Linked DNA regions of Homo sapiens: all the other regions are linked to region 2. A link means that fine-mapping ties the variant in region 2 to the plasma level of a protein whose gene starts in the linked region. Region 2 holds a variant in brackets. A gene starts in each other region. All regions are shown on their forward strands. Distances are between the middles of the regions. Region 1 holds the start of LYSMD3 (LysM domain containing 3). Region 2 overlaps SERPINE2 (serpin family E member 2). Region 3 holds the start of PPP1R12A (protein phosphatase 1 regulatory subunit 12A). Region 4 holds the start of TFPI2 (tissue factor pathway inhibitor 2). Region 5 holds the start of ITPR1 (inositol 1,4,5-trisphosphate receptor type 1). Region 6 holds the start of UXS1 (UDP-glucuronate decarboxylase 1). Region 7 holds the start of PPP1R12B (protein phosphatase 1 regulatory subunit 12B).

What was found. A credible set is the group of variants that fine-mapping cannot tell apart. PIP is the posterior inclusion probability: the model's chance that the variant is causal. The UK Biobank Pharma Proteomics Project read protein levels with antibody pairs (Olink). The fine-mapping took linkage between variants from a reference panel, not from the people measured, so its PIPs are less certain.
Region 1: LYSMD3 starts here. The variant in region 2 is the best candidate, but not a certain one, in a credible set for the plasma level of the LYSMD3 protein (UK Biobank, PIP 0.79).
Region 3: it holds the start of PPP1R12A, and the variant in region 2 is the best candidate, but not a certain one, in a credible set for the plasma level of the PPP1R12A protein (UK Biobank, PIP 0.71).
Region 4: it holds the start of TFPI2, and the variant in region 2 is the best candidate, but not a certain one, in a credible set for the plasma level of the TFPI2 protein (UK Biobank, PIP 0.79).
Region 5: ITPR1 starts here. The variant in region 2 is the best candidate, but not a certain one, in a credible set for the plasma level of the ITPR1 protein (UK Biobank, PIP 0.54).
Region 6: it holds the start of UXS1, and the variant in region 2 is the best candidate, but not a certain one, in a credible set for the plasma level of the UXS1 protein (UK Biobank, PIP 0.62).
Region 7: PPP1R12B starts here. The variant in region 2 is the best candidate, but not a certain one, in a credible set for the plasma level of the PPP1R12B protein (UK Biobank, PIP 0.53).

The regions. Positions count from the first base shown.
Region 1 is chr5:90,527,951-90,532,015 of GRCh38, forward strand. It overlaps LYSMD3 (LysM domain containing 3), which reads right to left and starts at 1,634. Exons shown (of 3, transcript NM_198273.2): 1 at 1,498-1,634. RefSeq lists enhancers at 905-1,405, 2,031-2,290 and a silencer at 1,671-1,920.
Region 2 is chr2:224,014,095-224,018,159 of GRCh38, forward strand. The region is part of intron 1 of SERPINE2 (serpin family E member 2); the gene reads right to left. The region is part of intron 1 of LOC124907990 (a long non-coding RNA gene); the gene reads left to right. Among named protein-coding and RNA genes, the nearest start is that of SERPINE2, 23 kb to the right of the region's middle. RefSeq lists an enhancer at 994-1,493. The variant T/C (reference allele first, on the strand shown) is at 1,687.
Region 3 is chr12:79,934,502-79,938,560 of GRCh38, forward strand. PPP1R12A (protein phosphatase 1 regulatory subunit 12A) reads right to left here and starts at 596. Exons shown (of 25, transcript NM_002480.3): 1 at 194-596. The coding sequence starts at 430. It overlaps PPP1R12A-AS1 (PPP1R12A antisense RNA 1), which reads left to right and starts at 780. Exons shown (of 2, transcript NR_146535.1): 1 at 780-1,053. RefSeq lists enhancers at 1-545, 182-481, 528-822, 546-1,111 and a silencer at 12-101.
Region 4 is chr7:93,888,610-93,892,674 of GRCh38, forward strand. TFPI2 (tissue factor pathway inhibitor 2) reads right to left here and starts at 2,144. Exons shown (of 5, transcript NM_006528.4): 1 at 1,982-2,144; 2 at 1,528-1,710; 3 at 426-614. The coding sequence starts at 2,069. TFPI2-DT (TFPI2 divergent transcript) reads left to right here and starts at 2,285. Exons shown (of 2, transcript NR_134235.1): 1 at 2,285-2,470.
Region 5 is chr3:4,491,684-4,495,746 of GRCh38, forward strand. It overlaps ITPR1 (inositol 1,4,5-trisphosphate receptor type 1), which reads left to right and starts at 1,665. Exons shown (of 62, transcript NM_001378452.1): 1 at 1,665-1,922; 2 at 2,748-2,823. ITPR1-DT (ITPR1 divergent transcript) reads right to left here and starts at 1,480. Exons shown (of 2, transcript NR_108075.1): 1 at 1,101-1,480. RefSeq lists silencers at 1,734-2,003, 3,302-3,596.
Region 6 is chr2:106,192,186-106,196,250 of GRCh38, forward strand. UXS1 (UDP-glucuronate decarboxylase 1) reads right to left here and starts at 2,116. Exons shown (of 15, transcript NM_001253875.2): 1 at 1,963-2,116. The coding sequence starts at 2,056. RefSeq lists an enhancer at 1,209-1,258 and a silencer at 1,589-2,198.
Region 7 is chr1:202,346,846-202,350,910 of GRCh38, forward strand. PPP1R12B (protein phosphatase 1 regulatory subunit 12B) reads left to right here and starts at 1,854. Exons shown (of 24, transcript NM_002481.4): 1 at 1,854-2,297. The coding sequence starts at 2,007. RefSeq lists enhancers at 1,601-2,141, 1,813-2,122.

The DNA of each region.
Region 1 (4,065 bases), not on the chromosome of region 2:
GTAGATTATTTCAACTGTTCTCTGAAGTGCTACATTATTACCAAGAACTAGGATTCCTAACTTGACAGCTATGAAACTAAAGAAAACTATCACATTTTATATCTCAAAAGCAGTTTTGAAGTCATGACCACATCTTTTCCTCCAAGGATAACAGTTTTATTTCCACTCATTTAACCAGGTCTTTTTTTAATCTTGTGTCTTTAACCTAGGGAATGTCTTTGAATCCTGTAGATTCCAGGCAAATTTTATACATATGTATATTTTTCTGGGGAGAATTTTCATTGCTTCATATTCTCAAAAGGCATCCATGATCAAAAAAGTTAAGACTTAATATACAGCAATTTACACTTGGCTATACCGACCTACTTATGTGTCTTGTTAGACAGTTTCACCCTAATAATTTGTACTTAGAACTTCAAAATTGGCTTAGTAGTGCAGCTAACTGAAAATCACTAAGCAATGCCCCAAAGCCATTTTAGATACTTGTTTCTATCAACCTCTCTCCACGATATATTTCTAAATATAATTTAAAGGTCAGAACTTCACCTGTCTCACTATCTCTCCACTCCCCTTTATAATGAAATGCAGGCAGCTGACTATCGTGTTACAAATCTGGGTATTCTGAATGATCAAGAACTGGCTGTGTCTTCAACCGAAGTGAACAGACTGACCCAGGCGATCACTCCAGTCTACTACTCAGAGATTAGAAAATACATAATATTTAAGTCATCTGGCTCAATTCTATTCACCTCTCTTAATTCTCTTAGAGCAGGAAAAAGGCACGAACTCCCTTTCAGAAACTTGGAACAAGCCTGCGTGCTACCTAGATTACGAGGGGCCACAAAACAGTGTTAAAGCATTCTTCAGCTCAGTCTGTAACTGAAAACGGTTTCCCAAACACCTTCGTACTGTAGAATGGCTGCTGGGTGTTTCGCCTTGACCTTCTTTAACTAAGCAAGGTGCAATAAGAGGGTCACAGGGCACAAGTTAAAGCTGCAAAGGGACAGAATCAAAGGCACCCTATCCGCTGCCAGGGACAATTTTGTTTTTTAAAACTTAACTACCTCCTCCCTCTGTATTCCACACGTCAAGTTTTTCTTTCCCTGCTATCGTCAGCGAAGATTACGTCTCAGAGTCTTCTGTCACAGCATGACACTTGAACGATGTGACAAGATGCCGTCAGCGAATATTTCACGCCAACATAAAGTCGTGGGAGAAATGCTGTGTTTGGGTGGGAAATTAGCTGCCCAGGTAATCCAGCAGGTAGGCGTCCTTCCTCTGAGCCTCAGTTTCCCCGACAGTGTGACAAGAGGGCCTGGCAGGGCTGGTCTGGAAGTTCTTCCCTGTCTCGGGGGTGTCCGCCACACGGGCCGAGCCCGGCCCTGCAGCCCCCACCACACCTGTGGCCGAGGCTCAGCGCCTCCCGTGAGGACGCAGCTGGGGCTCAACCCCGCCCTCCTGGACCGGGCTACCCTCACCTCCTGCCACCATCTTTACCTGTCCCCGTTAGCAGGGAGCACTCTGCGAGAAGATGGCCAAAAGGTCCGCCGCCGCCGCTGTCCCGGGTAAGTTCATGGCCGAGCCTCTGCTTTGGGCTGACCCCGTCCGCCTCCGCCTCTGCCGCCAACGTCTCCGCCTTCCGGGCCGTACGCCGCCGCCACGTCCGCAAACCTGAGATGCGTCATCGCGTCAAGTGGGCGGAGGTGGGAAGGGGCGGGGGAGGACGCGGAGGGCAGCCCAAAACGGGGGAGTCCAACCACAGGTCCACGCCCGGCACGCAGGCGCAGGGACTCCTCCGGGGCCCGGGGGCGGGTCCAATCCCCGGGCCCGGGGGCGGGTCCAATCCCCAGCCCCGCCCTTGACTCCGCTCCTTCCGTGCCGCTTCACTCCCCGAGGAAAAGATTTGGTGGCCAAGTCAGCGGATCCAACCCGCGACCACCAGCGACCTACTGGCTGCGTCTTTGTCCAGCGTCCACACTGCGCTGGCAGAGACTGTCGGGTGCACCCTGAGGACGAGGCGTGGCTCAGGATGTGTCGGGGAGCTGTCTTGCATTTTTTTCTTGCTGTGCATCTCGAATTTTCTTTAGGGTGGGAAAGGACACCTCAAAAACACTGTTGACATCACGGTTTCAGAAAATTGCGCCATGTTTGTTACCCTTTTCATGCTGAAGACTCCAGACTGCTGCAGAAGAGGCAGAATTCTGGAGAGAAATCCTTGGGGGACCGAGGACGAGGGTTGGAGGGGGTTGTCTCACCCTTCCTGTTTTTAGGTGAGGGAAGTGAGCCACCTAGAGTCAGGCCCCAGGAAATGTTTTCCCTGGCTCGAGGAGTCAAGGGAGTCAACAAATTGTAATCTAACTTATTTTGGTTTGAAAATTAACTGAGTCATTGGTAGTCACCATTGGACTCTATGGAATATTAGCTTATTAAATAAACTCATGACTTCATACATGATTTTTATCACAAATGTGTTAAATGAGTATCATAATGTGTTTGAATTTATGTATGACTTTGGCAAAAGCCGCAACTACTTTTGCACCAACCTAATTAATGAATGTAAAGCATTTTAATGAGTCTGATGTCTCTCAGTGTTGATATTAGAGACGTTGCACTTTGACAACCATGCTAACTGTTACGACAATATCCATTTTAGGCACAAATAGCTGGGGTGCAGGGTGCAGAGCAGTGCTTTTCAGAATGTCTGAATATTTATACATTAGAAAGCCTTTGAAGCTTGGTTTTAAATTGTTTTTCAAAGAGTATGTTTTTGGTTTTCTGGTAAGTGCCTCTGCAAAGGTTAGGAGTTTTGCATTGCAATAGTTTTCTTTTATTAGCAGGGATAGGCACTGTGCTTCCCAGCGCCACAAAAAAAAACTGCAGGAGAAGACTTTTTTAAAAAGTTTGTCTGAATTGTTCTGTGTGTTGTTGCCCTCATGACACCCCTGTCTGTAACCATTTATCACTGAGACGTTCTCTCATCAGCAGACAAAGGATATATTCCCTGCTTGATATGTAGGACTTCGGCTGCTTAGCCCTCATGAATGTTAATGGGAATACAACCTTCTTTCTGTCTATAGGTTACTTTTCTTATTTTAATGTCAATAGACAGCGGAATTAATGTGAGAGCCAAAGTGATAGATTTCAAGCACTTCTATAGGACCGATACCTGTATCCTTCATATAAATAACTTTCTCAAAGATATCTGCATGCTCTTGAATAGTTATTTGTATTTAACAAGGATGCAAATATTAAACTTTTTATAAAAATGGAAGAATAGGATTATATTTTATTATTAGAATATACAAAAGAAGCAGTTAGCGTGAATTTTGGCCAAGTTCCAAAAAGCCGGCCAGTAGGAACAAGCATTTTGTCTTTGAGAAAAAGGATGTCCCCAGTGCTCAGCAGAGCCAAAGGATTTTTAGTGTTTCAAGATTTCACCTGACACAGTTTCTGTTAAAACGCTATAGATGAAAGAATATGTCATTTCTAGGAATATGTGTTTTAGTCACTAACGTTTAGTTTTTGTGAGTTGCCCTAGAGTAGAAGTTGTACTGAAGTGAGAGTGTAAATTGATGCAACCTGTTAGGCAATATCTATCAAAATTTTAAATGCAACTGACTGAACTATTACATTGCTAAGTAATTACCTTAGATTTACTTACAGACACATATGTGCAAGATTTAACAGATATGTTCAGGAATGTTTGCACAGTAATAGCCAAAATCTGAAAATATTTTAAATGTTTATCAGTAGTTGACTGATACTTCCGGTACATTAAAACAATATAATGTTATACTTGGTTTCAGAAGAGTGAAGTTAATCTGGCATTTGCTGATTTATTCATTCATTTACCTAATAAGTTTCTGTTGAAGAAAAACAGTGCTTAAAAAGACAAATTCCCCTTACTTATGGAGCTTGAATGACTGAAGCGTGTAGAAAGATCTTTAAAATGTATTTTAGTCTATTTTAGGAAGAAAAAATAGGAGGTATGATATTATTTCTATGGAATAAAATTTCAAATAAGCATCCCTCATCCTACCCCCCGTACCCCACCGACACACATAT
Region 2 (4,065 bases):
CCATGCGAGGTGGCTCATGCCTGTAATCCTAGCCCTTTGGGAAGCCAAGGTGGGTAGGTCACTTGAGGTCAGGAGATCGAGACCATCCTGGCTAACACAGTGAAACCCCATCTCTACTAAAAATACAAAAATTAGCCAGGCATGGTGGCGCACACCTGTTATCCCAGCTGCTCAAGAGGCTGAGGCAGGGGAATCACTAGAACCGAGGAGGCAGAGGTTGAAGTGAGCCAAGATCATGCCACTGCACTCCAGCCTGAGCAACAATCAAGACACTGTCTCAAAAAAAAAGAAAAAGAAAAAAAGAAAAATTCCAGGGAGAACCACTAGGTAAATTGGTATCAATGCAGTCATTGCATTGATGAGAAACAGTCTAGGACTTCAGACGGAGACTCTGATTCTAAACTAAGGAAAGTCAGAGGGAAAGTCAGAGGGATCATTGTGTGGCGCCTGGGGCGAGAGTGGGAATGTGTGTTCTCTTGTGCCCTAGAGCAGGCTTTCTTTATCTCGGCACTACTGACATAACTCTTCAGTGTGGGGGCTGTCTTGGGTACTGCATAAGGAAACCCATATCCACCTGAATACAGAAGACTCTAGATTCTCCTGGGTCTCAAGTGCCCAACAAAACCCACTTTGTTCCTTTGAAGTCAGGGTAGCATTTCCAAGGCTGCCGTGTAAACAAGTGTCCCCTATTAAGTTGGTTTATCCCTTAATTTATCCTACAAATATTAATGAAGCACCACAGTGCCAGGCCTGGCGCTGGGATGCTAGAGAGAGAATAGGCATGAAAAGGGGCTTGGTACCTGCCCTCCCACCTCTCAGAGTCTCAAGGCATGGTTCTCCACCTGGGTGACTCTGTCGCTCAGGGAGCATTTGGCACTATCTGAAGACATTTTTTTTGGTTTTCACCACTAGGTGGGGGCCAGGGAGGGTGGTGCCATGGCATCTGGTAGGTGGGGGCCAGGGAGGGTGGTGCCGTGGCATCTGCTAGGTGGGGGGAGGCCAGGGGTGCTGCTGAGCAGCACCCACAATGCACAAGACAGCCGCCTGCAACAAAGAATTATCCAGCGAAATGTCAGTAGTGCCAAGGTTGGGGAAGCCTGGTCTAGAGGGGAAACAGACCTTAATCAAATCGTCTTATTACTTGATATTTACTTTCATTTTCACGTATTTACTTTACAAATGCTCTGACATCGAGGAGAGTGTGTAAGAATGGAAGCAGAGGCACACCTGGGCCAGGGTGAGAGGCAGTGGCCAGGGAAGTGCTCCTGGGAAGGGCCACATGGGCAGACATTGGAGGATGGACTGGAAGTGACTGGACAAAGGGGCGGAGAGATGGAAGCAAGGAAGAGTATTCCAGACAGAAGCTCTCAAGTGCAAACAAACCTTGTGTTGGGAGGTACCATGGATTATTCTGGAAATATTTTTCCTTTCATACCATCATCACCTTACAGCCTTTGCAAGACAAGGGCAACTCTGTGTCCATGACTCCAACAAATAGGCAGCTCATCAAGACATACTGCAGAACCCAACCGGACAGAAACTGGAAGAATCATTCACACTCCAGTGTCTATCTTGTTCCATGGCTCTCTTTCTCACCACCCGGCACTGCGCATGACAACAGGCAGGAATCAAAACCCTAAGTTGACATTAAAAGCCTGAGTTTCATAAAACGAAAAACTGATAAAC[T/C]GAAAAACTGATCAATTGGACCTCATCAAAATGAAAAGTTTTACTCTGCAAAAGATCCTGCAAAGATGATGAAGAGACTAGGAGAAAATATTCTCCAATCACGTATCTGTCAAGGGACTAGTATCTAGACTACACAGAAAACTCTTAAACCCCAACTGTAAAAAAAAATCGGATTAGGAAATAAAAGACATGGATAGATATTCCATTAAAGAGGATGTATAAATGGTAAATACGTCCATTAAAAGATGTTCAACATCATTAGCCACTGGGGAAATCCAAATTTTTAAAACCACAATGAGATGTCACTATATGTCCAGATGAATGGCTAATACTAGTGACAACACCAATTGCTGGTGAGGATGCAGAGAAACTGGATCACTCACACATTGCTGGTGGGAATATAAAATGGCACAGCCGCTCTAGAAAACAGTTTGGTAGGTCAGGTGCAGTGGCTCACGCCTGTAATCCCAGCACTTTGGGAGGCCGAGACAGGCGGATCACCTGAGCCCGAGGTCATGAGTTCAAGACCAGCCTCACTAACATGGTGAAACCCTGTCTCTACTAAAAATATAAAAATTAGTCAGTCGTCGCGGCAGGTGCCTATAATCCCAGCTACTCGGGAGGCTGAAGCAGGAGAATCGCTTGAACCCGGGAGATGGAGGTTGCAGTGAGCCGAGGTTGTGCTATTGCACTCCAGCCTGGGCGACAAGAGCGAAAGTCCGTCTCAAAAAAAAAAAAAAAATAGTTTGGTAGTTTCTGTTTATTATTTATTTTTTTTTAATGTAAGTTTGGCCGTTTCTTACAAAACTAAACATGCACTTAACTGTATAATCCAGCAATGCTGGACATTTATTAGAGAGAAATGAAAATCATTTCACATAAAAACCTGTATACCAATGTTCACAGCAACTTTATTTTTTAATAGTCCCAAAGTGGAAACATCCCAGATGTTCTTCAGTAGGTGAATGGCTAAACTGTGGTACATCCACACCACAGACTACTACTCAGTAATAAAGAGAAATAAACTACTGACACACAAAACAACTTGGTTGGATTTCAAAGAACTATGCTGAATGGAAAAGCCTATTTCAAAAAGATGCATAGTGTGTAATTCCATGTATATAACATTGTTGAAATGACAAAGGTGCAGAGATGGAGAATAGATCAGTAGTCACCAGAAGTTAGAGAACAAGAGAGGGAAAGGGATGTGTGTGACGATAAAAGGGAGGCATGAGGGGTCCCTGTGGTGGAAATGTCCTGTATCTTGCCTGTGGTGGTGCCCACACAAGTCCATACATGTGATAAAACTGCATAGAAGTAAATGCACACACCCCAGTGAGTACCTGTAAACCTGGTGAAATCTGAATAGGGTGGGTGGATTGTGTGATGTCAGTTTCCTGGTTGTGGTACTGTACTACAGTTATGCAAGATAATGCCTTTGCAGGAAACCAGGTAAAGGGTACACGAGAGCTCTCTGAATTACTACTTTTTTTTTTTTACGACTGCATGTGAATCTATATAACTATCTCAAAATAACAACAAAAAAACCCTACTGTAAAATTTTAGTCAGCAAACAAATGCCAATGTACCTTAAGACAGATCTTTTTATTTCTTACTTTTTCCCTGTACTGCAAATGTACAATCACACAAAAATGTAATATTTTTGGTCCTTTCAAAAAGAATAGCTACAGTTTTAGGGTGCTTGCATAATTGTACATTCTCATAATTATTTGACTTATAACAGTATTAATTCTTATTCTATAAGAAATTAACAAAAGGATTTAGGACACTATACATGGCCCCTGCAGGTTCCTAAGACAAACCACCCAAGTTCAAATGTCACCTCCACTGCCAATTATCTGTATGACTTTTGACAAGTGCTAGCCTTCAGTGTGCCTCAGCTCCTCCATCTGAAAATCGGTGTAATAGTAGTTCTTACTTTAAGAGTTGTTATAAGGATTTTAAAAAGTACTATGTCTCAGGTTCTTAGGACAGTTCTTGAGGCCCCACTCGAAGCTGGCCTCTGCTGTTACCCCATTTACCACCATCATCACGAAGGCCTGGGGTCCTCTCTTCAGGCTTTGAAGGCCTATACTACAGTCCAGCTTAACATTTCCTCAAGGGCAAAATGTTCAAATATTATAATTTCTAAAAATCAAAACACATGTTTAAAGCTGCCTTTAAGACTTGTGGTCTTTTTTCAATTTCCTTTATTTCTTTGTTATTAGAGGGAGTCAAGGGTCTCTAGTATGTGACTTTATCAGACTTTCACATCTGGTCACAGGTCCTCAGGGAAGGTGACTTGAGAGGCCTTGCCCTCCCCAGGGGAAGCAGCTCAGCCCTGTGACTCCATCGACAGCCCTGATGATGGGCTTAGGA
Region 3 (4,059 bases), not on the chromosome of region 2:
GGGGGCCTCAAGCCCAGCGCCCTCCCTTCCACCAGCTCTCCCTCCCGCCCTCTGGGGAAACCGCCCCCTCACCCCGCAGCAGGGAGTCTCCCGCCGCCCCCAGCCTCAAGAGGTGGAGAACTGAGGGCAGGCCCGAGCAGGAGGCCGACGAGAACCCTCACGGTCAGGAGAGCCGGCGGCGGGGCGCACAGACCTGGTGCAGGGCAGTGAGTCCGTCCACATTGGCGTAATTGATGTCGGCGCCGCGGTGCAGCAGCTTGAGGACCTCGTCCGTGTCGCCGCTGGAGCAAGCAGCCAGGAAGACGGCGCCATCGTCGAACTTCACCTTGGTCTTCTGGCGCTTCACCACCGGAGGCTCGAGGTCCGTCTCGGAGCCGATCCAGCGTTTCAGCTGCTCGTTCCGCTTCTGCTTCGCGTCCGCCATCTTCATCCCCTCTCCTGCCGCCGGGTCTTCTTATCGCGAGGGGGGGAAGGGGGAGGCGGAGAGGGAAGAGAGGGGAGGCAGGGGGTGTGTGAATGTTTCTATGAGTGCGGGCCAGAGGAGGGCTGGGAACCCGGAGCCGACGCTCGAGACTTCCAGTATCCCACAGAGCACTGGGGCGGCGCACCCGGCCGAGCGGACCTCCCTTCCTACCACAGAAGCCCTCCCGCCCCCAGCACGGCCACCCGTCACCGGCGGCCAATCTAACGTAACTTCGCGAGATCCGGACTGGGAGGCGCCCTTCGACCAGTGCGCATGCGCCCTGGGCCTGTGCCCGCCCCAGGAAGAGCGCTCCCGCGAACTGCGGCGGTGGTGGCTGGGCCACCAGAGGGAAGCGGGTGTGGCCCAGGCAGCGGGGGCTGGGACAGACCTGGAAAGGAGGAAGCGGGGAAGGAAGGTTGTCCTGTCGGGCTGGGGGCTCCCGGGAATCCGGAGGCCAGCAGTGGAACCGCAAGGCTCTACAGGGCAGATCTGCCTCCCGTGCTGTCTCAGCTACGCCGAGTCGTTGGCTCAGGGCGGAGGATTTTCCTATTGGCCGCGTTATTTGAATGGAATGGAGGATAGGTCGTGAAGTAGGTGCTGCTGGTTGATCTTTCTAAGGAACTCAGATGAACTTGGGCATGTCAGAATTAATAACCTTTTAAAAGTGGGGTCTGTGTGGCCGAGGGTTTTAATGGTAAGTTCTTGAGGTGACCACCTATTGACAAGGGTTGACCTGCTGTAATTGCTGTGGCTTCCTGCCAACCCCCACTTTAGAAATGTTTTTCTTCCTCTCTTTACTTGTTTTGTTTTGCTTTCTCTCACGCTTGGGTTCTCTTCTTTCTTCCTTCAGTGCTTTAAGCCTGTCTCGTACTACCCATGAGCTTAGCTCAGCCTGATTACTGGTCCTTACCTTTTAAGGGATTTCTGGTTACAGCTCCATCTCTTTCTAAGGAGGGGTAAAGACCTAGCTGCGTCTAGCATTTAAACGGAACGTTAAGGAAGGCAATTAATTCAACCACTATTTATTGAATACCTACTATGAGCCAGTAACTGTACTAGGCACTGAAGATACAATGAAAAATATGACATTTATTTGAACCACCTCTTGAGTTCAGTCGCCCAAACAAGACTAATTTATCATCGTCATAAAAAAAAGACTTTAACTTTGCCTTGTATGACCACACGCGCACACACATAGGATTTGTAATACTGATGTCTTATGAGCCATCTATCTACAATCTCCACCAATTGATTTTACTGAACACTGCATTGTTACCATCCACTACTATTTTTAGAGCATTTAGAAAAGCCAAGATAAAAACCACAAAACCTTACCATGGAAGTTTAGGGGTCATCTAGACAGAGTCCCTCAAGAACTAATTAATTTACTTAATTTTACCCAGAAGTAGGATTAGAATTCACTCAGCAAATACTATGCACCTGTTCTGGGTCAGGCATTGTTCTAGGTGCTGGAGATAGAGCAGTGAACAAATAAGCTTTTCTTACTCTCAGCATGATGCCTTTTCCAGTGGACTACTTCACAGCCTATCATATTGAGAAATAAAATAATTGAGTAAAACGTGATTAGGAAACTGTCTGCCTGTGAGACAATTTTCTGAACCACAGTTATTAGGATAGCGATAGAATCCAGGTCAGGGTAAAAATATTTCCTCTGAAAACGTTGTAGGAATAGAAAATGAATGTAATATTCATAAGATATACCATTGTATGTTCATTACATACATTAAAGATAACATCAGACCTTTGAATACTCATGGTGTTAGGTACTGAAAAACATTGTTAGCACTAAAATACAAAATCCCTATCCACAGAATACAGCTCTCAGAATAAAAGAAAGGAACTTGAGGATTGCCTTGTCAGCTCCTGTCTCTACCTAGGCAACTGACAGCATATCCTGTTTTCCAAGAACGTTATGGCCTATGTGGTAGCTCTTAAAGTGCCCTTGCAGTATAGATGGGAATCTGAAGATTTCATTCAGGCAAAAGGAATTTAGTGGGAAGTATGCTATTCCTGATTCAAGCACTTATTTCAGGATGCAAAATTAATAATAGTTTATTAATAAAACATAATTAAGTTCATTCAGTTCCCAGAAGCTGTCAGGGAAAAAACAACCAAGGAGGGCTGCTATCATGTGCAAATTTCACTGAATTTAGTTTTTCTTCTTTCGTGGCTCTAAGGGTCAAGATGCTCTATGTTAATATTGAAAGTACTCTGAAACTGCCACCTACTTTGTCTTTAGGGAGGATTTTTTTTAAATTGTTGTTAGTGAATTAATGGTACTGAAGACCTTGGGTTAATTCTAGAACAAGCAAAATTTTTTATTGACACACACAGTCCCAGCACAGTGGCTCACACCTGTAATCCTATCACTTTGAGAGGCTGAGGCGAACTCTGCCCAGGAGTTCGAGGCTGCAGTGAGCTCTCTGCACTACAACCTGAGCGACAGAGCTAGACCCTATCTTTACCAAAAAAAAAAAAAAAAGACACACACACACACACACATGCTTTTATTACATATTTGTCTAAGCAGAACAAATGGAAAAAATGCAAATATTTTCACTTCCTAATGGCTTCTAAACAGATTGGGATGTGAGGATACATTTTAGCTCCTTTAAAGCAAATTAAGCCTTAAAATAGAAGTACAAATAAAACTATACTTACTAATTTGCATATATGTATATATAAAAATATATTTTTGGCTGCACCAAATCAATCATATTGGAGGTTTTTGTTTCTGAGACAGGGTCTCACTCTATCGCTCAGGCTGCAGTGCAGAGGCATGATCTCAGCCTCCCAAGTAGCTGAGACTACAGGCGCGTGCACCACCAGGCTTAGCTAATTTATTTTTTAAGTTTTGTAAAGATGGGGTCTACCTATGTTGTCCAGGCTGGTCTCAAACTCCTGGGCTCAAGTGATCCTCTGCCTTGGCTTCTTAAAGTGTTGGGATTACAGGCTTGAGCCACTGTACCTGGCTGGGGGTTTTATTTATTACATGCACAAGATTGTCAGAATGAGATCTGTGTATATCTTTTTCAAAGTTTAATCACACTACTGACATTCCTTACCATTAATTTGCTTGCTAATTATGATCAACTTAATTTAAATTATAAACATATTTGAAATGCTGACATGCACAGCTTAGATTTGTTTCTGCTATTATAATCTCTTTGTTAAAAATGTACATAAGATATTAATAAATACTTTGATATATCTATGTTCTCTTTATCCCTAATTTAAACCTGAGATACTAATTTACATTTATACACTTGAGAATAGAACAGTCAACAAGGACCTTGTTTCTGTCTCCTGTATTCTACACCTGGGCCAAACTCTCTTCCATTGCATAATAATTTCTTTCCAATGTTTTATTTAAGAACCTGAAGAAAAGGCTGGGCACGGTGGCTCATGCCTGTAATCCCAGGGCTTTGGGAGGCCCACGTGGGCAGATCACCTGAGGTTAGTAGTTCGAGACCAGCCTGGCCAACATGGCAAAACCCCCGTCTCTACTAAAAATACAAAAATTAGCTGGGCGTGGTGGCACGTGCCTGTAATCTCAGCTACTCGGGAGGCTGAAC
Region 4 (4,065 bases), not on the chromosome of region 2:
AAAAAGAAAGGAGAGAAAGGAAGGAAGGAGAGAAAGAAAGAGAAAGAGAAAGAAGAAAAAAAAAAAAATTAGCTGGGCATGGTGGCGGGCGCCTGTAGTCCCAGCTACTCAGGAGGCTGAGGCAGGAGAATCGCTTGAACCCGGGAGGCAGAGGTTGCAGAGAGCCGAGATTGTGCCACTGCACTCCAGCCTGGGCAACAGGGCGAGAGTCCGTCTCAAAAACAACAAATCAGAAGAGGCAGAAAGCAAAAATTTGAATCATGGCTTTGTCACTTTCCAGTCCTAAGAACTTGACAAGTCACTAACTTGTCAAGTAATGTGAAATCATGAAAATGCACATGTTAATTTCGCATCAAATTGAGTTTTTTCCACCCAAATGTCTTTTCAAAAAAGTGAAATAGAAATACCATAAAAATCGTATTTACTTTTCTTTGGTGCGCAGAAGCCCATACAAGTAGCTTCATCTGGAAACCTGTTCTCAATCCGGTTCCGGTGACACCCACCGGAAAAGAATTTTTCACATGTCATGGAACTTAGATTAAAGAAATACTTTTCTGTGGACCCCTCACACTGGTCGTCCACACTCACTTGCAGCCGGCAAACTTTGGGAACTTCTAGGAAAAGGAGGGTAATAGAACAATGTTAGTCAAAAGTAGCCTTCTTATTAAACCATCACTGTATTTTCAGCAACATTTTGTGGGGGGAGAGAAGTTGTATTAGTGTTGGGATAGTAAATACCCAGAATACTCCCATGAATCCAGATATTTACTTTTTTTTTTTCTAACAGTGTATTCAGAGCTGACTCAGCTGTGATGTATCTTTCAAGTTCAGTAGAAAGACTCTCTGTTTTCTCTGGGTGTTCTCTGATTGTACATATGCAGTGAATCAAAGCTTATTCACATGAATACGCATTTTCCCCTGGCTCAGTTCCTTGAATGGAAAAGCCCCATGTTCTCTTACAGGCCTTAACCGATATAATTTAAAAATTAAAAATAAATTAAAATATAACAGTATTATGAATCTCCACCATGTCCCGCAACTAATCCAACACATGTTTGGGTATCGGGACAAAAGTAGAGTTATATAATGAGCTAAGTCACACTTCAATAATAAAATCCACTAAAAATATTTCAGATTGATGGATAATCGACAGAAGGAAATGATGTACTCCAGGAGAGATAAAAATCATAGGTTTGGAATTAATGAAAAATACAGAGAAGCACTTACGTTGTACCTAACACGTTATTCTCTTGCATTTATTATACCCCATGGTGAGGGAACAAATCTTTCCCTGAGTCCGCACAGGCACTGAATTATGATCAATGTCAGTTGGGAGACAGGAAATGTGTTAGTGGTTGTAAATTTGTGATTACTTTTAAGAAACTGAAAACCATGAGGTTTGCTTAACACTTGAGAAAACCCAGGCTAAAACTTCCTGTAGAAAGCGAGACGTGGGAAACTGGCGAAGCTGCTACCAGCCGCCGGCGCAAGGAGCGCGAGAGTCCTGGGTGCGCGCAGGGCACTTACTTTCTATCCTCCAGCAAGCATCGTCGCAAGCCTCCCAGGTGTAGAAATTGTTGGCGTTGCCCTCGCAGCCCCCGTACAGGAACTGGCGGCAGCTCTGCGTGTACCTGTCGTAGTAGTAACGGAGAAGTAGGGCCCGGCAGGGTCCGTAGTCTAGGGGCAGGAGACAGATCTCCGCGTTATTTCCTGAAGAAGGGGCAGAAGGAGAGCAAAAGAGAGGGAAAGTGGTCAGGCGTAGCTCCTAGGAGGAAAGAACATCCCGGGGAGTTCTGTCCCCTTCCGAGCGGAGGGGCCTCTGCAGAGAAAGTGCAAACTTGGGAGCGAGTCCCCCCTGCCAGCGGAGCGCGCGGCAGGGACCTGGAGAAAGCGAGGCTTGGAGGGCGCCTACACGGGGCCCCATGGCCCGCTGCGCCCTCTCCGCCGGTTGGGGAGAGAAGCTCCTGGAGCGGCCAGATACCTGTTGGCTCCTGAGCAGCATCGCCCAGTGCAGCCTCCGTCAGGAAAAGCAGCAGAATCGACAGCCCCAGGGGGCGAGCGGGGTCCATGGTGCAGGGGGTCGGGCGGCCCGCTGGGCAAGGCGTCCGAGAAAGCGCCTGGCGGGAGGAGGTGCGCGGCTTTCTGCTCCAGGCGGCCCGGGTGCCCGCTTTATGCGGGGCGAGCGTCCGGCCGACCCCCGCCGGGGCGGAGCCTGAGGGGTGGCTGATTCATGCACGGGGACTGTCACCCCGCCGCCCCCGCGCTGCAAACTGTGTAAGAGGGAGAGGAATTCCCCGCCAAGTTGAAAAGTTGAACCTGCCTCCCAAACTTTCTCCTGTAGTCCAGACGGGGACGCCCTGAGGGAGCGTTTGTGTCAGTAATGGGAAATCTGCAAGCTAGACGGAAATGACCTGCTAGTGATTGCGCTGTAAAGAAGCCGGAATCCACCTCTTGAAGGCATGAAGTTCAGGTATTTGAAAGGCTGGTGGAGAGAAAGTGCGGAGTTCTTGGGTCAGAGCGGAGCGGGATTCGTTGCAATGGACCTTCAGATTAGATTAGAAATGTAAATAAGTGTATATTTATATTTATACACACAGATTTCAATCGAGTTCTAATTTACATTTAATACAGGCTTATAATATATCGTAGGTGGACAGTTTGATAAATTTTGACAACTGTGTAGCCACCAATAAAGAATTAGAACATTTTGGCTGGGCGCGGTAGCTCGCGCCTGTAATCCCAGCACTTTGGGAGGCCAAGGCGGGTGGATCACCTGAAATCAGGAGTTCGAGACTAGCCTGGCCAACATGGCGAAACCCCGTCTCTATTAAAAACACAAAAAATTAGCCGGGCGTGGTGGCGGGCACCTGTAGTCCCAGCCCCTCGGGAGGCTGAGGCAGGAGAATGGCTTGAACCCAGGAGGCGGAGGCTGCAGTGAGCCCAGATGGCGCCACTGCACTCCAGTCTGGGCGGCAGAGTGGAACTCCGTCTCGAAACGAAGAAAAAGAAGAAGAAGAAGAAAAAAAAAAGAGTTAGAACATTTCCATCACTCCAGAAAGCTCCTGCAGACTTTTTCCTAAATCAATCCTTCCATCCTTAGGCCAGGGGCAAACACTCTTCTCATTTCGATTACCATAGATTAGATTTGCCTATTCTTGAATTTCATATAAACGGAATTATAAAGTATTCACTGTGTAGTATTTCTTTCTCACACTTCCTGTTTTTGAGATACGCCCAGGTCACTGCATCAATAGTCTGTTTCTTTTAATTCCTGCGTAGTCCAAGGTATGAATTTACCAAAACGTATGAATATCCCACAATGTATAAATATGTTGCTGTGTGTATCAATAGTCTGTTCCTTTAAATCATTGAGTAATATTCTAATATATCACAAATGTCTTATTACTGGAATTTGTGTTGTTTCTAGTTTGTTTGGGGGCTCTTATGAAAAAAGCTGCTTTGTGTGGACCTGCAATTTTTATTACTCTTGGATAAAATACTTAGAAATGTTAGACACTGCCAAAGGATTTTTTCAAGATGATTGTACCATTTTACACCCCAACCAAGCATGTATGAAGCTATGTTTTTGTATGTATCTATGTTTTTGGAGAAGAACCATAGCAGCCCAGAGAGATAGCCTTGGGGAGTTCTGAAGATTTGACCAGATCAGTGTATTCCCACACATTTCCTAATGTCAGTGCATCCATTAAAGTTCCCTGTTCCTTTGACATATTAGCTTGTGATCCACTTTTTTTTTTAATACAAACAATTACCTACAGTGAAATTTTACATAAAATATTAAAGATATTTTTGAAGACATTTTAATATACTTGTCTTCCCTTCCCCTTTTCTCTTGTTGTATTCAACATTCTCAAGTAAATAATTATTCTTGACTTCTGAGGATACTGGGGGTAGTTTACAGAAGTTCTCTTTCAAGTTTTCAGGAAGCCCTGAAAAGTATAGGACACACTTGCTCAAAGTGGGTTAATAATCTGAGGTATTTTGCACATTATATCCTTGTGCCAGTTTTCAGTCATTCTGATGTCATGTTACAAGGTCACAGTC
Region 5 (4,063 bases), not on the chromosome of region 2:
TTCACCCAATAAGTGTCAATAATTATGATTCGTTTTGGCATTATTATGTCAGTAATAACTATTAGCTATGATTCTCCTCTAATTTGTTCCTAAAGTTTCATGAGACTCGATTTTATATTAAGGAATCCTGCTAAAAAGTAGACATATTCTAATAAGAATTTCCTTCAGATGGCAAAACTGGGGCAAAGAGATGAAAATGACTTGCCCAAGGGCTCAGAGGCTGCTCCTAAATGGGGAGAGAGGCTATTTAAGGCAATGGCGGTGGATTTCCCCAAAGACAAGGGTTTCATACACGTAGAGTCTGGAACGGGAGTCCAGGCTGTACCACTTAACTCGAGGGGTCATTTGGGAAGTTACCTGATTTCTCTGAGCCCTGGATTGTGCACCTGCCAAATAGATATAATAAATATACCTACAGTTGGTAAAACTCAATAGCATGACGCATGAAAACTGCATGTGGTCTGGGCTCAATAAAATCAGCCTCCCCATTGATTATTATCATTATTATTACTATTGTTATAACAGATCTTTAGGCGGCGTCAGGAAGTGCCTGTCTGGGATGCTATAATGCGTTTGGCTCACCACTATGCCCCAGCGCCTGGCACCTAGTAAACACTCAGGAAACGTTTGAGGAATGAATATACGTCATTTGAGGCAAGACAGGGCAGTCGGCTGACTGCCTCCGGGCTTAGCTCTTCCCCTCCTTGCAAAAGCCGGAGCCCTAAGCAGCGTGTAGCCCGGGAGCCCAGGCATTACTTGGCAGCGGGTGAAACCCACCTTGCCCCATTCGGAGCTCTTGGAGAGCGCCCCGCCTGGATGCGCATCTCTGTGTGAGCGGCTCTTTCCTAAGCCCTTATTTTTCTGGTTTGCGGTTTATTTACTTAAGCATTTACAGCTCCCAGGAGCAGAGGGGCTGCTAGAGGTACGGTCAGGACTGAGGTCGCGGTTTGTATTTATTTTCTGCCTCCCAATCTCAGAGCCGGCAAGTCACAACACGGCTCCTTTATTTGTGCACCGGAGAGGTCTGCCTTTCTTTACCTCCTCACGGGCGATAAAAGACAAGCAACTCGGGCTCAGAAAAGTGCTCTCACGCGACTTGCCTGTGTCTCCGCTTGCGTGGACCGTCGCTCCCAGGCTTGGTTTCTCGTGCAAACCCGAGCAGGGCGGAGCAGATTAAATAAAGACACCTCGCGCCTTTAATCCTTGACCGCAAACACTGGCGTTTTTGTGCCCCGGATTTCTGAAATTCTTGGCTCGGGGAACCAAGGCAGGGGGAGGGTGGGCTTGTAAAAACTTCCCAAAGCAGAAATCCGAGCTCCTAGCCCCTCCCCGGCCCCAGTGACACCTGGATTCCAGGGAAGGGGGGCAGCCGGAGGAGAGGCGTCCCCAAGGGTTGCGGGCGCTTCCCAGGGGTGACTTTGAACGGCTGGCTCCAAGCCCTACCGACCCCAGCCAAGGAACAGGCTCAGCAGCCTGAAAGCCTCGCAGGACGCCCCTCCCCTGTCCCCGCACGCGTCTATTTAGGGCCCAGCCCGGGCGCCCAGGGGATTCTGGGACTTGTAGTCCCTCCCCGCAGCCTCAGGCGCCGCCACGACCCGCTACTTGGACTACATTGCCCAGGGAGCTTCCCGGCCTATATAAGCCACCCGGAGCCGCTTTAAAGTGCAGTAACCATGTGGATGTGCTGCTGAAGCGTTTCCTCAAGCTCGCTGGGGTGGGAGGAGAGGAGGAGGAGGAGGTGGTGGTGGAGGAGGAGGCAGGGGGTGGAGAGAGAGAAAGCGCACGCCGAGAGGAGGTGTGGGTGTTCCGCTTCCATCCTAACGGAACGAGCTCCCTCTTCGCGGACATGGGATTACCCAGCGGCTGCTAACCCCTCTCCTCGCCCTGCTCCCCCAAACCGGCGTGGCTCCCCGGGCACCAAGGTAGCGGCTGGGGCCGGGCAGAGGGCGCGGGGAGTTGGCACTGGCTCCCCGGGCGCAGAAGTTTTTGCCCCGCTCTCGGGGAGATCTTGATGGATGTGCATGCACTTGGCATGCATTTGGGGGTTCCTTTACTGCGGGCAGTTGTTTTGGGGGGAGCTCATTTGAAGCTTAAAAAACAAATATCCTCTACTCTAGTGCGTGGCTTTGGGGGCTCCCCATTCTGGTCTGATGTGGCATTCCCCCAAGTTGGAAACTGTTGCTGCAGCTGCAGGAAATAGTTCTTTTTTTTTTTTTTTTTTTGAAGAGAGGTTGTGGGGGTGTCATATGTGAGTCTGCTCAAGGAAATAATCTTTCTAAAAATGTATCCCTCTCTTGCGCTCCGTGGTTGGGAGAATAATGCATGTGTAGGGGCCCCCCGTGGGGAGGGTTTTTAAAAACGGAAGAAAACCGGAGAAGCGGTGAGGGATGAAGTGTGGACGAAGCTCATGTCCAATGAGGATGCGGGCTTCGGATACTTGGCCTTCTCGCCGGGAAACAAGTGCTTTGGGATCTGCCAAACACTTCCCTTAGTTCCAGCCTCCCGCACGTTCGAAGTTTGTGCGTGCCTAGTCTCAATTGTCAGTTACATCCTGGAAATAAGTAAGCGTAGTTACCTGGAATCTTCGCCCAAGCGATCCCACCAACCTGCCTACCAAGTTTGGGGGCGGGGGGGCTGTCCCCAGTGAAGGAGGCTAAAGAAGGTGGAAACTTGTAATTTGGAGCATTTCTGTTAGAGCTCATCTTCCGCGGTCTGGTACTCAGTCTTCTTTCTTTCTAAATATTTAGGAGCTGACTACAGAGGAGCAGGATTTGCACCCCTCGCTGGGCTTGCTTTGGCAACAGAGTGCCTGACCCAGGTCAGGTGAGTGTGGAAGCCTGAGTGCTGTAGTCAATAATGAGTTTTTGTCCTAAGCCTATTTTAAGTTCTATCTAAACCGCCAAGGAGGTGGGGAGTAAGAAAGAAAAAGAAACTCCGTGGCTCAGTCTTCAAAATTTGCCTCTGCCTTTGGTGAGGGCTTTTGGGAGCAGAGGTCCAGTGGACAGTCCGTTTCTTGGAAGTAGCTGAGAATTGAAGGAGCCTGAAAGTTTATGAGAGAGGAGGGGAAAAGGCCATTAAATGGAGCAATAAAACGGCGGCCCATTGCCGGTCTGAAAAGCATGCTGATGATTTAAATTCTGAAGGATACAGTGCATTTCATATGCCAAAATGTGTAAGCAGTATTAACTGCCTCTCTCCTTCAAGAAATAGTCACTCTTTTCTAATTTTGAACGTGTGCTTAATCAGAGTAGGTTGGATTGCAAGAAATGAAAGTGGTTGCTGCAAGTTGAAAGAATTAGAACTTTAAAAAGGGAAGTGAGTTATTGAAGCTTAAGGTGGTAGCATCCAGCCCTTGACTCAAGCCACCTGAGTGTCAAGGAATCTGGCAGGTCCCTGTTGTTTTGGGGCCCGTGGTGGAATATGAGCTGAGAGCAGCATTTATCTGTAAACACAACAGTTCCTATTTTTTCCCCAAAATGGTCAGACTGCATTTGAAGAGTGGGAGGTTTCAACGGGTGCACGTACATCACTATTGCTGCAGATTTGGCTATCAGGAGTTTTTTCTCCTGAAATGTTCAGGAACATGGTAAATAACAGGGTAACAGAGGTAGGTGGGGGTGGGTGGCTGGGTCTTAATAACTTTTTTAACATTCTAAATATTTAGCTGTTCCCTGGGCTACAATCTTTGGGCTTTTCTAATGAGAAAATAAAAGTCAGACACTTCATTATAGTGGTATAGTGCTTTTGTTTCCTGTTGATAAGATCCTCAGGAGTACTGGCGGAGTGAGAAGCATTTGGATGTGAGAACTCTAGTTTCTTCTTGGAGTTCTGTTGACTCACATGGCTGTGTGGGTGCTCATAGAGCCAAGGATTAGGCCCAGTTCCCCTTTTCAGAATTAGCTGTACAGCAAGGAAAAACTGGTCCACAGACTCTTTTCTAACTGGTTGCTAAAAATAATAAGATGGACACATTAAGTACTTGTAAGCCAGGTCCAGAGCCATGTATCTCAGAAACCCTGTGCGTCAGATGCAGGTGAAGAAACTGAGGTGCAGAGAGTGAAAT
Region 6 (4,065 bases), 120 Mb before region 2:
GGTGTCTCCTAGTGCCAAATTCAGGGACAACAGTAAGGACTTGGTAAGATTTCCTGGTCAGATGAATGATTGGTTAAAAAACTTTCCTGCTGGGAGCGGTGGCTTACGCCTGTAATCCCAGCACTTTGGGAGGCCGAGGCAGGCGGATCACGAGGTCAGGAGATCGAGACCATCCTGGCTAACATGGTGAAACCCCGTCTCTACTAAAAATACAAAAAATTAGCCGGGCGTGGTGGCGGGTGCCTGTAGTCCCAGTTACTTGGGAGGCTGAGGCAGGAGAATGGCGTGAACCCGGGAGGTGGAGCGTGCAGTGAGCCGAGATCGCGCCCCTGCACTCCAGCCTGGGCTGAACAGAGCGAGACTCCGTCTCAAAAAAAAAAAAAAAACTTCCCATGGCTCCATAAATCCCCTACTTTATTAATTCTAAACCCTTGCAGCGACTATAGAATACCCCCAAAATAAACATTGAAACTGCTGTTCGAAGACCTGGGTTCTAGCTCCTGCTCCCAGGCCTTTCTGGGTTCAAATTTTGGCCCTCCTTCTCTTACTATCTGTGTGATCATCCATAAATTTCCTAATCTCTCTTGGCCTTAACTTCCTCACCTCTAAAATAGGAATCATTATAGTACCGATTTCCCAGGGTTGCTCAATGATTGAGACAATGGCACTAAGAATCATGACTCACACAGTTAAGCACTCAACAAATGTAGGTAGTATTACTGCCATAATAATAGTTATTCAACTTTAAATGGTCTTTCCTCTTGGGTCTCAGCTTTCTTACTCAAGATTGACCACACACACACTTTAGACTAGTTCTTCCTCCCTTGCAAAACTACACACATCTAACACCCATCCGACGCCTGAAACCTCCCCTAGCAACCCGGAGTCCTGCTGGGGTTTTCCAGCTCCACCTCCTGAACAGCTGGGCTGTAGCACACAGGCTGGATCTACTCATACTTGCCTTCCTAGAGCTCAACTGAAGTCACTTCAGACAAGTGAAGTACCCACTCACCTCTGGAATCAGATCTTGGTAACGCCAACAGGTTAGCAGGTGATTTCATTTCAGTGTGTGTCTGGGTGGCTAGCATTCAAACGCAGCTCACACTGGGAGCTATTTCTAGTCCAATTTTGCTACTTGGTAACGTATTAATAGCATCAATTAAAACATTCCCAACGAATAGATCTTTAAAAGGACGGTTTCTGACTTCCCTAACAAGCAGAGGGCCGACCACCTGCCTGCGAAGTGCCCCTCCTGCCCTGTCTCCAGGCAGCATGCTGTGAGCGATGACAGAAACTGGACCCGCGCACAGAGAAGCTGCAGGCACGCCCTGCCCGGCCACCCAGCTGCCTGCCTGCTTCGCCCGGCCGCCGAGCCCCGGGGGAAAACCTAGAATGGGGATGCCGGTGCGCCCCGACACCTGGGCACGGCCGCGGGCCGGGGAGCCGCCCACACTTGGCTCCCCAAGAGTTAAACGCTGAGTAATTTTCCTGAGGAGCAAACAGTCGGAGCGGGGGCTCTGCCAATGGCCACAGTATTTTTATCCGACTTAACCGACACCGCGGCGCGACCTCGGCTGTCCCCAAGGGTATCCCCACGCGGCACGCTCCGGAGTCCCCGACCGGGACCCTCGCCGGCTCCCAGCGCGACATGGACGACAGCGCCGCCGCCGAGTCCCCCGCGCCCGGGCAGGAGGCAGAGACCTGGGGCCGCCCGAGGACTGCTAGGGGCCCCTCCGCCCGGGGTCCGCGCCCGGGCCTAAGCGGTAGGGGGTGTGCGCCCAAGTTGGCCCGCTTTGCTGCAAGAGTGGAAAGGGGTGGGAGCAGAAAGCGCCGGCCCCGCCCGGGGCGGGGAGCAACGCGGGGCTGCAGGGCCGCCTCGGGGCCCCGAACCACCGCCGCCCGGCCCACCGCGGCGCCGGGGAATGAATGGGGCTCCCCAGCTGGCAGCGGGCGCGCACTCACAGGCGACGTAGGCCAGCAAGGCGATGCCCAGCAGCAGCTTCATCCTCCTGCGGTTGACGGCAGACACGAGGCGCAGCAGCGCCTTGCTCACCATCCCCGGGAGCCGCGCGGGTCCAGGGCCCTACCGCGCGGGGGCCCGCCTGCTGCACAATGCGCGGCGGCGGCGGCGGCAGCGGCCCCGAGAGCCCCGCCTCCTGCCGCCGCGCGCCCCCGCCCCCGCGCGCCTGCTTCCTGCTGGCGGGATCACCGCGCAGGCGCGCCTCCACCCCCTTCCTCCGGCTCCGCCCCCGCCCCTCCGGCTTCTCTACCCGCAGGCGCAGTTGCCGCCTTTCTTGCCTTGGTTTTCGAAGAATGTGACCTGGAGGGCTGGTGGGCGGTGCGGCGCGCCGCGGCGCATGCGCGTTCCGGTCTGTTTTCCCTGAGTTAAAGCGCGCGGGTGCCAGCCGGGAGGTGCGGCTGGATTCGTTTCGCTGAGGTGCGTCCCCAACCCAAGGGCACGACTGCAGTGGCCAGTTTCCGAGCCCCGCCCGGAGGGGGGCACGCGGTGGGCATTCCGGTGTTGCAGTGAAACGAAACTTATTTGCTAAACTTGGCCGAGCCTTAGAAGTTGAATGCCTGCCTCAGAAAGTTGCCTCGTTCTCTGGGCTGTTTAGTTGGCTTTTTTTAGTTAGAATATCGGCAGCGAAAATGATAAATCCCCTAAACCTTGCCGAAGTAAAAACTGGCTGCGTTTTTTTTCCTTGGCTATGATCAACTGGGGTGCCTTTGTTTTAATAATAGTCTTTTATTATTATTTTAAAAAGCAGTGCTAAGTATATTAATTTAGGATAGACTTGGAAAAGAAAAGATGAAATTGCGCTGTCTCTGCCTAGAGAAAAACCCTGACCATGTTGTCGTGTGTGTTTCATTCAATCTTTTTGTTGAGTATATCTGTTTTATGAGTGCTGTACTGATTGCATAGGAGGTACCTGTGTTTAAAAAGCATTTACTGAATGATGATTACAAGCAAGGAGATGTATCAGAAGATCCACAGATAATCGGAAGCTTGTCATTGGATCTGGAGAGAGCTGGTCCCATGGAGGAAAAAAAGACAGGTACACACAGATGTGTGTGATGCCACATTAAGAGAGATCCCGGATTTGGGATCTGCAGGCTTCAAGAGGTCATCTTCAGCTATACGGAGAAGTTGAAGTCAGCAGCGGCTCTCCTACCTCTTGGAACCTCAGGCCATTTTGCAAAACTTAATAGATCACCCTCCTTTAGATTTATTAGAAACCTCCAAGAAAAGGAAATATGGCAGCTGGTACTAAAGCAGCAGCTTTATGTTACATCTTTCAAACTATAGTGCAAATGATGTGATTCTGATAAAACCTACCTCCATCCTACCCCTCCCCTAAACCTGTTGAGAATCCCTGACTAGGAGGAAACACTGAGCGGTTTGCTAAGGCGGATTGCCCCTGCTATGCATGCTGCCCATAGATGGAGTGGACTTCTTTCGAGAAGCCCAGCTCCCTGACTCTGACGTGTCCAAGGAGGCTGCCAAGTGACAAAACACCTGGCATGGGAGCCTGAGTCCTGGGTTCCCAGAGGGGCCAGGCCCCCAGAGCACACCAGTTTGGAACAAATCGATTTTGTTTGTAAGTCTGCATTTCCTCGTGGCTTTCTGGCTATGGTTTTTGAAAAGAGAACTAGAGCAAGTGGAGCTCTAGGCCTTTCCCATTCCATGACTCCGTGGTTTTTAGATTAAAGATGAGGAGCAGAAATGGAAGAAAATAATAGTTCATTAACATTTGACCTATGGGCAAAATCAGACTGAAGCTTCTAGGCGGATTTCAAGCATTTTAGGTTTTAGGTAGGGTTTAGTTGATAGGTATCCTATTAGACGACAAAGGTCAGAAATTGTGGGGTATTTGCCATTTCTGTACTAAACTCCTTAAGCCCAGCATTCCCAGTTAGCATTTTTTTCTGCTGCTGGACACTACTGCCAACTTCTGCCCTGTGGGATTAAGTATATGGAAATACCGTTAGCAGCTGCAGTTGAAATAGCTGCTGCTGTCATTATTGCCACCCAGAAGGCGGTTGGTGTCCCAGGACACTGGTGTC
Region 7 (4,065 bases), not on the chromosome of region 2:
AATTAATTGTTTCCTTAATGTATGATTTCCACTTCATTTCAGGGGAAATTGAGGAACAGGCAAATTTTCACATGACAGAATATAATAAAGTTTCCCTTTACAATACCCCAATCATTTTGCAACATTTTTTAAATGAAAAATTTTAAACATACAGAAACGTTTAAAGAATCTAACATTTGCATATGTACTCTTTCATTATGGGTAACACATTTAATTGTATTTTGTTCAGGGCTAGAGCACTGGAGGTTATACTTATTAAATCAATCGGACTGGCCGGATGCGGTGGCTCATGCCTGTAATACCAACACTTTGGGAGACTGAGGTGGGTGGAACACTTGAGCCCAGGAGCTCAAGACTAGCCTGAGCAACATGGCAAAACCCTGTCTCTACAAAAAATACAAAAGTTAGCCAGGCATAGTGACACAGGCCTGTAGTCCCAGCTACTTGGGGGGCTGAGGTGGGAGGATCGCTTCAGCCTGGGAGGTTGAGGCTACAGTGATCCACGACCATGCCACTGCCCTCCAGCCTGGGTGACAGAGCGAGACCCTGTCTCAAACAAAACAAAACAAAACAAAACAATCGGACAGATACATGTTTTATAACCCAGTCTTGGTGAATATAAAAATGTTCTATTTGCTACCTTAGGAATTTAGTATGATTTAGTATGCTTGATAGTATCTTTCTCTAGCTTTGAAAAAAAAAATCATGGGACAGGTACAGTGGCTCAGGGCTGTAATACCAACACTTTGGGAGGCTGAGGCAGGAGGATCGCTTGTGTCTAAGAGTTCCAGACCAGCCTGGGCAACATGGTGAGACCTTGTCTCTACAAAAAAATAAAAAAATAGTGGGTGTGGTGGTGGGCACCTGTAGTCCTAGCTACTGGGGAGACTGAGGTGGGAGGATCGCTTGAGCCCAGGAGGTTGAGTCTGCAGTGAGCCGTGATTGCGCCATTGCACTCAGCCTGGGTGACAGAGTGAGACTCTGTCTCAAAAGAAAAGAAATAAAAATCATGGAAGACATCTATTCTGTCTTGTAAAAATTTAAGGTATATGAAAAGAGTAGAGGAGGAGGAGGAGGGAGAAGGAAGAGAAATTATTTATTGGGATCCAATATGTGCCAAAGATAGTATTAGGCATCCTTGCATGTATTATTTCATTTGATCCACATGACTACCCTGTGAGATGTTATTCCCATTTTACACATAAGAAAACTGGCTAAGAGAAGTCAAGTAATTTGTCTGCGGCTGTGAATTCAATTTAAATTCACAGCTTAAACTCTTTTCACTACATCTGAATGCATCATTTTCAAGATCTTTTCTGGGCCTGGAGTAAGTTGACAGTATTTATGTAAAACATGTAATACTGTATCTGTATGTATGCTCCTCTTCCCCACGCTCATTCACATTTACCGTGATTAATACACATGTTAATAAAACCCTAGACTTAGAACTAGGATATAGAATCCAGTCGTTTAGGTACTTAATGTTTAGTTCTCTCCTCCAGAAAACAGGAATAATTACCGCCTTTTTTCCACTCCAAAGAATTGATGTGATAATTAGGGAGATAAGATTAGTTACTAGTCATAACAAGAATAAACTACAACTCCCAAAATGCCCAGAGGAAGAGGCTGACGCCAGTCCAGGAGACAGTTCCAGCTTTAGGGCAAAGGTGACCCCACTGGGTCCCGTGGCGAAAGAGAGAGCCGCCGGTCCTCGCCTTTTTTCTGATGCATCCAGGGATTTGTAGTTCCCTTACGGCCACCAAGTGCACTTAGGGCAGGCCTCTTACTACGAGTCCCGTGATGACCCGAGGCCGGGCAGCGCCTGCGTATTGAAGCCGAGGGAGCGTGCGGGCGGTACTACTGGCGGGAGGAGTAAAGATGGCGGCGCGAGGGTCTCCGCCCTCTGCTCCGGGCTGAAGCGCTCTGAGAGAGGCGGCAGCGGCAACTCGAGCCCCAACAGTAATTTAGTGTTGGTAGTTTTGGCAGCAGCTGCCGAGGCCGGAGCAATGGCGGAACTGGAGCACCTAGGAGGGAAGCGGGCAGAGTCGGCGCGAATGCGGCGGGCAGAGCAGCTTCGGCGCTGGCGGGGCTCGCTGACAGAGCAGGAGCCTGCGGAGCGACGAGGCGCGGGGCGGCAGCCGCTGACCAGGCGCGGGAGCCCCAGGGTCCGCTTCGAGGACGGTGCTGTCTTTCTGGCCGCCTGCTCTAGCGGGGACACCGACGAGGTGAGAAAGCTTCTGGCAAGAGGTGCTGATATCAACACGGTCAACGTGGACGGCTTGACAGCCCTGCACCAGGTAACTCCTTTCTTGGTCTTAGAGGCGTCCAGTCTCCTACAGATGAGCCTTTGACCCTGCGAGCCACCCCATGGGGAGTATCAGTGTTGCCGCCGACTCCTTCTGCATGGACACTGCCCTTTTGGGCTAATCGGTTTCATTCTTGGCCAGCTTCCTCCACTAATCAAGTCTTTTTCTGACCCCAGGGTCTTAGGAATAGCGTCACCCCGCTGCTTGGTCAGTGTTTGTATTTCCCTCCACCTACTTGTGTTGTCATGGTTACTGGTGATTTTTGTCCCTGGTCTTATCCCTGTAGATTAGTTATCTTCACTTATGTCTGGTTGGCGTGCCTGCACACCGCGTCACTCATAGGCACAGTGTCATTTGTTTGATGCCCTTTCAGAAAATTCAGTTGTTGTGTGTCCCCGTTATAGAATATCTTATATCACTTAAAGAGTAAAGCCCTTTACTGGGTAAAGACAAGCAGGTCTGAAACCACACCTCTTGTTTTGTTGATTTGTAGTACTTCAAAACAGTTTGTGTTGCCTCTAGGCTACAGCTCCTAGAACACGCTGGACCTCGTTGTTTTAGGTATCTTAACTTCCTTCTCAGCAGTGCTACCTCCCTGAGAGCTTCCTATGGAGAACTAAGTTACTGAATTACCTCTGTTTGATACTTATGGAATAGCTTTTCTATTTTTCTATTTTTTTTTCTAAAGTGCTCTATAGAAATCCCATGCCCCATGTATAGCTATACTATATGGATTGTGGATAATCTGTGCTTGGTAACGACACCTTTACTTCTGTCACCTAATGCAGCAATATTCTCTGTCTACTGACTGCCATGACTAACTACCCCTCTCTCCTCAAATGGAACTTCATCAGTTATTTTGGTGAGCTGAGAGCCGGACACCCACTCTTAATCTTTTGTATTTTTCTTCTTCTGCCGTCTGTGCAAAGTGAATGTATTGGCATGAGAATCTACTTCTAAATAATAACTCAACTTTATATCAGACCACTTCCCTAAATATATTTAGCCAATAGCTTAAAAAGTTACTTCTCACTATGTTTGCAACCCTTCTATTTCAGGTAGAAGAAACTCTTTCACCCTATTTTGTACCCATTTTTTTTTCCTGCTGATAATATTTCCCCACCTGAGGTAGTAACCAATATTTGTAGAGTGCTTTGCTGTTTGATTTCATATGTCTTACCCCATGTGAGTTTCAGCAGTGATCCTTTGAAGTAGGTGTGGCAGGTAGTGTTGTTATTCTCATTTTACAGATGAGGAAACTGAAGCTCAGGAAAATTATTTGTGCAAAGTTAGAAAGTAAAGAAGTGGCCCATAGGCATGGATTTTTCAGACTTATGTCACAGAGATCTCTATCTCACTTAATAAGGAGCTGAATGTAAAATGAGATAAAAGCTAAGAGAACCACATTAAATTCTAAACTTTAAATTTCTGAACTCTTTGGGAAGGTGAATTCTTGTTTTTCTTTTTCTTTTTCTTTTTTTTTTTTTGATTCAGAGTCTCGCTCTGTTGCCCAGGCTGGAGTGCAATGGCGAGATCTTGGCTCACTGCAACCTCTGCCTCTTGGTTTCAAGCGATTCTCCTGCCTCAGCCTCCCGAGTAGCTGGGATTACAGGCGCCTGCCACCACGCCTAGATAATATTTGTATTTTTAGTAGAGATGGGCTTTCACCATGATGACCAGGCTGGTCTCAAACTCCTGACCTCAGGAGATCCACCCTCCTTGGCCTCCCAAACTGCTGGGATTATAGGCATGAGCCGCT